2 separate regions of the Homo sapiens genome follow, and region 2 is linked to region 1. Evidence: fine-mapped expression QTL. A gene starts in region 1. The other region holds a variant in brackets. All regions are shown on one strand. Distances are from middle to middle.

Region 1 (5,386 bases):
TAATGGAAGACACTTTGGTAGTAAATACCCATACCATAGTTATTTGATGGAAATCAAAGATCTAAAACAAAATATTCTTTGAAATAGTTTCAAGATTTACAAATTTTAAATTATGTACCTAAAACCATAAGTAACGAAAAGTTTTTTTTACTTCTCTTTCAAGCCAAATTTCTGGATACTTTATGTTCCCATATACACATCTAATTATGTATATGTTAATACTTCCATATACTGATATGTAAATACACACATGCACACACACCCCTTAACTAGGTAAGTAGTTGTGAAAGAAAACTTCAAGATTGTCCTAGCAGTTCATAAGAAGTAATCTTTGATGTATTTTGGGGGGAGATTTATAACGACAAACTTGGGTTTTTAAATAAATATTACTCCCCCCATTAATTAGCAATCCTATTTTAGGATACTAAAACCATGGTGGGCTATTAAGTACTACAACAAGTACATATGGAAGTAAAACGTTTCTCTGGAAACTGTGGAGTCTCCACAACTGTTTTTATAAGAGTACTGCTCTATTTTCTTTAGAACAGTTAATCCTCAACGCCCTCTGTGGCCTGCTTTCTGCAGCAGCACAAGCCATTGCATTCCAAATTTCTCAAAATAAGTGTGGGACTTAGTTTCCAGTGGAAGCAGGAGGATATAATTTTACATGTGGGACTTTACATCTATAATCGTGCTTGCTAAAATTTCTTACCCAGAGGCAAAGAGTGTAGTGATTAAGAGCTCAGTTGTGGAGTGAGAATTCTTGGGATAATAACCCATCCTACCATTTAGTGGTGATGTGATCTTGGGTAAGACACTTAGCTCTCTGTGTTTCAGTGCCCTTGTTTATAAAACAGGAATATTAATTGTTCTCTTCAATGCATGCAAAGCATTTCAGAACTGGGCATAGAGTATGCAGTCAATAAATGTTAGTGTTTATCATTATCTATTCCAAATGTGACAGCACCAAATTATAAGTTGGACTGATTGGCAAAACTGCCAAACATAGTAAAAAACTCTCCATAATGATTCCAATAGCTTTATTATTGAATTCTTACTATGTTCCAAACATTGTGCTTAGATCTTAACAGGAATTATTCAATTACAACATCTCAACCACTTTAATAGTATTCTCATTTTGCAGACAAGAGAATTAAGGAACAGATAACTTAGTTGCCCATAATGGCAGAATTAATGGAATGGAGTGCAATCCAGGCCTAATTTCAGTCAGAGATCATAGTTCCTTTTTTTCTATCAAAAAAATAAATAAAATAAAAAAATTGGCCTTCATAGTTGACAGCATTTGTTAAAGCACTACATGTTTTAAAAATCTATTAGCTCAACTCCTGATTAATGTATTTATTCAATTAGTAAACTATTTTCTGATTAGAATTTTCTTGTAATTTTAAATTAAATAATAAAATAAGATACAGCTTCATAGAATCATACACTGGTCAGGTGAGAAGTCTTCAGAGCGTCTAATTTAGACTTCCATTCTATCACTATGGAAACACCCAGAATGGTGCCGCAATTTTGCCCTCCATAACATAGCTAGTCAATGGCTGGCAGGTTTCAGGATTCTGTATAGAATTCTTTTCAGTGCATCATACTTAAATGATAGATATTTACGTGGGTCATTTGTTGGCAATGCATCATAAAAATATCGCCCACATACTTGAAAAAGAATACAAGCCATCATCACCATTATTATACATAATTATTCAATTATTTTCAGAGATGATGGTTAGATGGGCTGGGCGTGGCTGACGAATCTGCATTAGAAAAATCTCTTCAAAAAAAGATTCTATTAAAAAAAAAGTCGTCTGCAATTTCTACCTCTCATCCTTCCAAGTATTACTTATTATTCCTTAATAGAACTGTTGAGAAGTTTTACATTGGGCACAAGGAGCGGTTCCCAGGATCGTGCCTTCCTAATAAAAGCCCAGTCTCGCGCCTGTCCCGGGCGCGGCGCTGAGGAAGGGAGGTGGGAAGAGCAGAGCGGCTAGAGGTAGGGCGGGCGGGTGGGTCTGCAGGCTGGAGGGCCGTTGGCCTGGAGCATGAAGGGGCGAGCCCACTAACGGCTTGCTTCCTATTGGACGGCGCGGCCCGTTTTGCGCATGTGTCTCCGGGTTCAAACCCAGGCACAGGCCAAGCGTTCTTGTTTGTTGAGGGCGGAGCCAATGGCGGGGGAGTGTTGTTAGCGCGCGCCTTCCGGATCGCAGCTCTCGCGGCAGTCGCCTGAGACTTAAGGTTATTGCTTGGCCGCGGCCTGGTATTCCGGCGATTCGTTTCTTGCTCGGCTTCCTGGAGCTGTGGTCCGTGTGGGCTTCCACCTCAGACAGTTGCGCTGGCTCAGCGGGGCCGGAACATGGCTGCGTCCGGTCTGGTAAGTGCAGGCCCCCCGCTCCAGGCGAGTGGTTGAGCGGCTGGCTGGGGCACGGGCGCCCGAGGCTGGGGAGAAGGAAATGCTAGGCTGAGGCTGTGATCTCTGAGGGATTTCAGTGGGAAAGCCGCAGGAATTTTTGAAATCAAGTGTGATCGTGTGTCGATAACCAGAGTTAATTTACTGTACTTTTATTATTTCTTAAGTTTTCATGTCGTCATTTCGTCTGTGCCTACGTCTTACTCTTGAGAGGTGCTTGTGATTTCTGCTGGGTTTTTTTTTGTTTTTGTTTTTGAGACGGGGTCTTGCTCTGTCCCCCAGGCTGGAGTGCAGTGGCGCGATCTTGGCTTCTGCTTTTTAGTCTAGCTCCAGTTCCTAGGCCTCCAAATAACTTTTCTCCCCATGGTAGAAGTATTGAAACGCCTTAAAAGTGTGTCTTTGCGTCACACTTGGTAGTTGGGAGAAACAGATTATGTAACAAGTACGTCTCGAAATAATTTGACGTTTTCAGTTCTTCTGTCAAAATGGTGGCCTTTTATGCAGTTCTTGAGGCTGATTTATGGAGCATATGTTATTGACAAACTCTTCTGAAAGACAGCTATCAGTTAAAAGGTACAAGCTGTGAATGACTAATGGGGGCGACAACTCATTTTGTTTACATATTTCTGGACTTCTTTGGTGTTCACTATTCTATATTTCATACTTTGGTTATGGTTACTATATAAAAATCCGTATCATTTCTTTTCTAATTTATCTCCCCTTCTAAGAAAATCTTCAGCTTCGATGATCTCCCATTATGTGACGTTATACATATAAACATAAAGAGTTGTATGAAAGAATAATATAATCTATACTTTTTACTATGAGCACATATATTGTTTACATTATATATAATCAGAAGAAAGCAATAAAGCCATTCTCACTGTGGGGAGAGAAGCGGAATAAAGCTTACCAGATGCCTGCAGTTCAGTTTTTAAATGCCTGTCATAACCTATGTTATGTCATAACATAACCTCAAAATTGTTTTGAGCCCTTAGGAGATGTTTGGTGTATAGCATGCCCATACTGGATGAAGTTACTTTGAAAATAAATTTTACTCGACTCTATCTTAAAGAAACCAAATTGATGATTTACTTTTCTTTCAGGATCATCTCAAAAATGGCTACAGAAGAAGATTTTGTCGACCTTCCAGGTGATTTACGTACTTAAGCTTTTAAGATTATTTTTATTCTCATCGTTAATAGATTTTTAAATGAAGAAAGGAAAAACTATCACCTCTGACTAATATAATGATTTCTGTGCCCACTGATTAAGGGTAGTCATCTTATACTAACGGGAATGTTAATGCAAGCAGTGCAATGACTTTGTGGCTGTGAAAAAAGAAATTCACCTGATAAAATAGTGGAACCAGGAAGAGGGAGTCTCAGTTCTGACTAAGTGACTGCCATGGGAAAAGCATTTTGTAGAATGAATCAAATGGTAAAATTAGAAAGATGTAGCTTATTCAGTGGGGCAAAAAGAAAAATAGTACATGCTGTCGTGCATTTGTTGAGTGCTTGTTTGGGTTGTTTTGGTTCTTCTTTTAGTTGTAAAACCTGTAAAAAGTAAATTTTCTAGTTAAATATTTACTAGTAATAGGATGAAAAGCATGTTTTTAAAAGTGAAGATGTTATTATGAATAACGTCATGTTTATTGAGCTGTGATTTTAGTAGGTCCAATGGGGCACAGAAGTATGTTCTTTTGTTTACAAGAAGCTTAGATTTCTGTTGGGAAAATGTATATGTACATTTGTGAAACAATTTAATGGACAAAAATTATTACTTGCAATACTGAAGTAATGACTTGTGTATCATAGAGAGTAGGCCTATATATAATTAGGCATTAACTTGCAGTATAGACAGCCATGTGAGAAATTAGGGATTTGTGTGTTGTTGATATTAAGAAAAGCTTTAAAGTTGTAGTGTAACTTTGGTGGACCTTGAACAGGTATTTAAAGACTAAGATAAAGTATATTCCAGACATAGAAAGTAACTTAACGAAGGAACCAAAGTAGGAATACATATATTTGTCAGTAGCAGAGAGACCTGATTTAAGAAGGTTGAATATGTTGGGTAGAAGTGGAAAACAAGACCATATGAGTTGGATTGAGCCATAAAATGGATATGTTAGGCTTTAGGCATCTATTATAGGCTTGAATAAGCTCTCCTAAATCTTCTGTGGAATAAGGGCTATCTGATATAAACACACACACACATTTAAAAAAGCAAAGATGTTTGATGTTTACAAAGTAGCTTAAGGAGGGTGTTGTAGTAATCTACACATGGTGGAGGTGCTTTTATGCTAAGGTAATAATGACAAAGGGGAAGAAAAGACGAATTTGATAAATTTTGAAAAAGCTGTTGCCTAATGTGACCTGCGTTCTAATAGTGACTCTGCATTATCACCTTGGCAAATCTGATCTTTTTGGATCTCATCCTTGAAACAGGTAATAGCAGGAGTGTATTTATAGCTGTGCAATATGTGCACCTGTAGGTGGTATTTTGGGGTGATGTCAAGGCCAGAATTTATAATAGTCACCTATATATATTCTGGTAGAAAACCGGCCACTAATACTACTTAGGTTTACAAACTGAGGTAGGCCATTTGACCATTTTGGGTTTCAGTTTGCCTATCTGCAAAATGAGGGCATAGGATTCAGCTAGGGGTTTTTAACTAGATTTGCACATCAGAATTACCTCCATCACCCTAGGAAATCTAATTAAATTGGTTTGTGGGAAGTGACCAATTAAGTGTATTTCTGCAAAGCTCCAAAAGTAACTTTACACATCTATTTGGATGATGATTATTGGACTGGATGATTTCTGAGATCTTTCAGTTATAAAACTTTATGATGGATGACCTGATAATGCACTGTGGCTCACAGTTTTTAATTACTGCATATATAGTACTTTTCCAGCTCTCAATAATAGGAATGTTGTAGATCAGGGATCAGTAAACTCTGG
Region 2 (5,386 bases), 26 kb after region 1:
CCCTGGCAACCACCATTCTACTTTTTTCTGTCCATGAATTTCAGACAGAAAATTTATCTGTGACTGGCTTATTTCACTAAGCATAATGTCTTCAAGGTTCATCCATGTTGTAGTATGTGTCAGAATTTCATTCTAAGACTGGGTAATATTTCATTGTATGTGTATACCACTTTTTATCTATTAATCTGTTGATGGGCACTTGGGTTGTTTTCGCTTTTTGGCTATTGTGAGTAATGCTGCTATGAATATTAGTGTGAAAGTATCTCTTTGAGTTCCTGCTTTCAGTTTTAAGTTTTTAAGGATCCACTGTGCACTTTTCATAGTGACTGTCATTCTACATTCACACTAGCAGTGCATGCACAAAGGTTCCATTTTTTTCTACATCAACAGTTGTTATCTTTTGTTTTTATAAATAATAGTCATCCTAATGGGTGTGATGTAGTATCTCATTGTAGTTTTGATTTGTTTTACATCACTGTTATTAGGAAAATTTAAAATAATATTTAAAAATCACTACTTACTGATAATGGCTAATATCCAAAAAACTTTTTTTTAAAAAATGCTACTTTGAGAGTTTCTTTTTCATTTGTTACAAGAGGATTTGTAATTGATTATTAAAGCATTTTATGATGTTTGCTTTAAAATTTATTGTTAAATAATTTTAAAATCTGATTCATCTCATTTATGTCTATTGATCATTATTTCTTACTTTTTTTTTTTTTTGGTTTGTTTTGGTTTTGGTATGACGAGTTGTTTTGATTGTATTCCTGAGATTTGGTTACTTATGTTAGGGGATTCTTAGACTACTTAAATCTTTTGTTACAGCACATAGTTGCCCTATTTTGGTTTAATGTATAGGTTCTTTCCTGTGTTATTTATTTATTTATTTATTTATTTATTTATTTGTTTATTTTTTGAGACAGAGTCTTGCTCTGTCGCTCAGGCTGGAGGGCAGTGGTGTGATCTTAGCTCAGTGCAACCGCCGCCTCCTGGGTTCAAGTGATTCTCATGCTTCAGCCTCCCGAGTAGCTGGGATTACAGGCATGTGCCACTACGCCTGGCTAATTTTTGTATTTTTAGTAGAGATGGGGTTTCGCCATGTTGGCCAGGCTGGTCTTGAACTCCTGGCCTCCAGTGATCCACCCGTTTTGGCCTCCCAAAGTGCTGGGATTGCAGGCATGAACCACTGCGCCCAGCCCCTCTTTCCTAGTTTTATGAGTTTTATTTTCAATGATAGTTAAGTGTTCAGAGTAATAGTGGTATTTTGTTCTACTTCATTTTCTGATGCTGTTAGGATTCTAGCTCAGTTCCTGTTGGTGCTGTCTGGGGTGGGTAGAAGATGCCTTTTGATGTCCATGTTCACTTGTGTGGGGTTCTGGTTAGAAGCTGCTGGTCCTGGGTTTCCTTATATCATTGGGTGGAGGACAGGGGGTTGCTGGCCTCTCTTACGCTGTTCTTGCCTCAGATTAGACTGTCTGCTGGTGCCCTGGTTGTAAAGTAGGGACTGGGATGGCCTGGGGTGTCAATACTATCAGTGGATCAAAATGTTGCCTTGGGCTGTGAAGGTCAGGGGTTTCACTACTCTACAGCTTCATGTGGGTCATACCGCCTGCCATCTATGATTGTAGAAGCGGGACTGGCTTGGTATGAGCTCCTTTACTGCTACAGTCCCATAGCACAGCCCAGGGCTTTGTTGCTTTGCCAATGCAGGTAGTAAGGAGTGCTCCATGGCCGAGAGTGCTGAATGGGGCTTGAGTTTCCTCATTAGGTCTTCGGTGGGTTTACCTTGTTCAGAGAATGCATTTCCACCCAGCCTCCACCCTGTCTTTCACCTATTGGTGGTTACAGGTTATACTAGCAACCAGTCCAGGGGTATATGGGAGACAGACAGAAAACCTAAGGCTTGTCTGTTTCTGGTCTTGAGCTTCCTAGCTAGTCTACCTTTTTTTCTTCCAGCTTTCAGAGTCCTGTTGTTGATTGATGGATAATTTCCAGGGAAGTTAGTTGTATTTAGAGGGAGAAGCAGGGAAATGCCATCTCGTTCTGAAGGGTGAGGGTTAAGAGAATATGGATACATTCTTTTAAATTTTCTCATTATAGATAAATGTTCATATACATATATACTGTGTATGTATATATACACACATGCTTATGTTGTATCTCTCTATATCTGTTATATCTATATTCCATGTGTGTATGTGTAAATATATCATCTAGCTGCCCTAGGTCACCAATTTTTAGCCCAAAGATAGAAGAATCTTAAGTACTTACTTATTTTAATCATAGATCTTTGATTCTAATCTTAATGACTTTGAGTTTTCTGAAAACTATTTCTGATTAAATTATTGCAGAATTTTTAAAAAGCCTGCTTGATTCTCTTATTATTCTTTTAATTGACAAATATCTTTATATAATTTTCTTCTAGTTCAGGCCCATGAAGTTCATCAGAAAATTCTGGCAACTGATGTTAGTTCCAAAAATACACCTGACTCGAAAAAAATATCAAGTAGAAACATAAATGATCATCACAGTGAAGCTGATGAAGAATTTTACTTATCCGTTGGCTCACCTTCTGTTCTTTTGGATGCAAAAACATCTGTATCACAAAATGTTATTCCATCTAGTGCCCAAAAGAGAGAGACTTACACTTTTGAAAATTCAGTAAATATGCTGCCTTCAAGTACAGAGGTTTCAGTTAAAACCAAAAAAAGGTAACATTTTATTTAAATAATGTTAACGCACTTTAAAAATTTTACTTTTTGTATTAAAAAATGGTAATTCAATCTTGTTATATTATTTTACACTAAGGAAGGAGGAATATTAACATGTTATGAGAAAGTATACATTTAGCATATATTCAGTTTGTAATAATTAAGGAAGGGCTTAAAGTGTACTTCAGAGAAGTTTAGAGGTTAACTTTTCTATAGTCTGGAATAATGTGTTTTCTCTCTGATAATATTTGATTGCTTCCTAAGAGAAACAATTTGTATTTTCTCAATATTTTTTGTAATTGCAAGTGTAGATGTGTATCAGGTCACTTCAAGGGTAGCAGAGCATAAGTATTATTGAGGATGCTATGCTTTGTGGACAGCTGGTTTCTCTTTCTTGACCTTACCTTTGGCCTTTAGGAAACAAAGTGGATTCAAGGTCTTTTGCATTTGGAGATCTCTGTAATGAGTGTAATTTCTATTTAGAGTATTGTATGATTACTGGAGCCAAGGAGTTAAGTATATTCTAAGACTTTGATATTCAAAGTTTGGTCTGTCACAGTGCTCTAAGATTGCCCTGAGAACCATTGCCTAGCTATACATTTCATTGATGTATACTTTAGCCATTATTTTCTCTTTCATGTTTTTCTATTGATAAATACAAAAGTTAATTTTCCTGA[G/A]CAGTTTATCTTATGTATTTGGAATGCACAAATCAGCATTTATGTCTTAAATAAATGCCTAGTACAGAATTTTAAATTGGTCTGTATTGTCTCTGTAAAGGAGTTCAGGAAGACTTATAACTCAAGAAACGTTACGGGAGCATTCAGCTTACCCTCCTTTTAACCTTTTAGGTTAAACTTTGATGATAAAGTTATGTTAAAGAAAATAGAAATAGATAATAAAGTATCAGATGAAGAGGATAAAACATCGGAAGGACAAGAAAGAAAACCATCAGGATCATCTCAGAATAGAATACGAGATTCAGAATATGAAATTCAACGACAAGCTAAAAAAAGTTTTTCAACATTGTTTTTAGAAACAGTAAAACGAAAAAGTGAATCCAGGTGAGTTATTAAGAAACTGCCCTTTGAGACATTTTTCTTTTATATTCTATGAACCATATATAAGGATTCCTAATGCTATTTAACTTAGAAATAAGTAATTTAATTAACAAAAATTTTAATTGAAATTTTTTCTGACCTGTAAGGAGAGATGGTTTTTTACCAGTCAGTGAGTCACTCCCAAAGCCATTTTTTAATAGATACTAAATTAGACTTGAAAGAAAACAAGTTTATTCAGTTTTCATTGCCTTCTGGTTTGTCTGTGTGATATCAAAGACTGAAGTCAATGCAGTATTTATGTATGTATGTATGTATTTATTTTGAGACAGGGTCTCGCTCTGTCTTCCAGGCTGGAGTGCAGTGACGCAATCTCGGCTCATTGCAACCTCTCCCTCCTGGGTTCAAGAGATTCTCCTGCTCAGCCTCCCGAGTAGCTGGGATCACAGGCACCTGCCACCACGCCTGTCTAATATTTGTATTTTTAGTAGAGATGGGATATCCCCATGTTGGTCAGGCTGGTCTCGAACTCCTGACCTCAGGTGATCCATCTGCCTCGGCCTCCCAAAGTGCTGGGATTACAAGCTTGAGCCACCGCACCCGGCCGACAATGCAGTATTTAGAAATCGTTATGTTAGGCTGCCCTTATGTCACTATCATAGGTATCAGAGTGCTAGTGAATATACTAGGAAGTTTTTATTGCTGGGCGCGGTGGCTCATGTCTGTAATGCTAGCACTTTGATAGGCCGAGGCGGGTGGATCACTTGAGATCAGAGGTTCAAGACCAGCCTGACCAACATGGTGAAACCCCATCTCTACTAAAAATACAAAAATTAGTCGGGCTTGGTGGCACATGCCTGTAATCCCAGCTATTCGGGAGGCTGAGGTAAGAGAAACACTTGAACCTGGGAGGTGGAGGTTGCAGTGAGTCGAGACGGTGCCACTGCACTCTAGCCTAGGTGACAGAGTGAGACTCAGTCTCAAAAATAAAAAGGAAGTTTTTATAAAAACATGTTAAATGAATGAATGAAATTCCCCTTTTGTTCAGTCTCTGCTTCCTGTAGTTGATTAATTATTTTTATGTGTATATTTTAAACCTCATATGGATATTGTCACCACCATCTGAAACAAATGCGTTATACTTGTGGGCTAATTATATAATGTCTGAGAAATTATTTTTTAATGTTCTTTTTGATACTCTAGTGAGTAAAGTTCATCTTATGTTTAATTGTTGTAGTCAAATATAACTATTCATTATTCCCAGTGCTTTCTAGCATCATTGCTTCCACTTATGCTCTTCCTTTTGATTGTCTTTCTTGCATTTCCTTGTGACCAAATCTTAGAAATCCTCCAAGATCTAGCCTAAATGCTACAAAGCGTTTCATAGTTTTTGTAGCTAATTAGAAGCCATCTTTCCCTATTGTAAACTTTCATAGTGTCAAGATTGTTTCCTAAGGATATCATTTCTGTTTAACATCCATTCATTGTAGTATTTGTATTGACTTTGTTCTTTATTAGTTTTTATAGAGTTTTCTAATTATATAAGTTTGTGAAACTCTACCATTAGAGAGTATATTTTTTAGAGTATTTGCTATTTTACATTATAAGATTTGTCAGGAG

What was found. PIP is the estimated chance that this variant, and not a neighbour inherited with it, causes the effect.
Region 2: its variant is the best candidate, but not a certain one, in a credible set for the expression of CENPC in whole blood (INTERVAL, PIP 0.55).

What each region holds. Positions count from the first base shown.
Region 1 is chr4:67,542,338-67,547,723 of GRCh38, reverse strand. It overlaps CENPC (centromere protein C), which reads left to right and starts at 2,221. Exons shown (of 19, transcript NM_001812.4): 1 at 2,221-2,386; 2 at 3,529-3,575. The coding sequence starts at 2,369. RefSeq lists a silencer at 1,937-2,076 and enhancers at 1,899-2,449, 2,227-2,466.
Region 2 is chr4:67,516,542-67,521,927 of GRCh38, reverse strand. It overlaps CENPC (centromere protein C), which reads left to right. Exons shown (of 19, transcript NM_001812.4): 6 at 2,426-2,711; 7 at 3,560-3,772. Among named protein-coding and RNA genes, the nearest start is that of CENPC, 26 kb to the left of the region's middle. RefSeq lists enhancers at 954-1,453, 1,454-1,955. The variant G/A (reference allele first, on the strand shown) is at 3,389.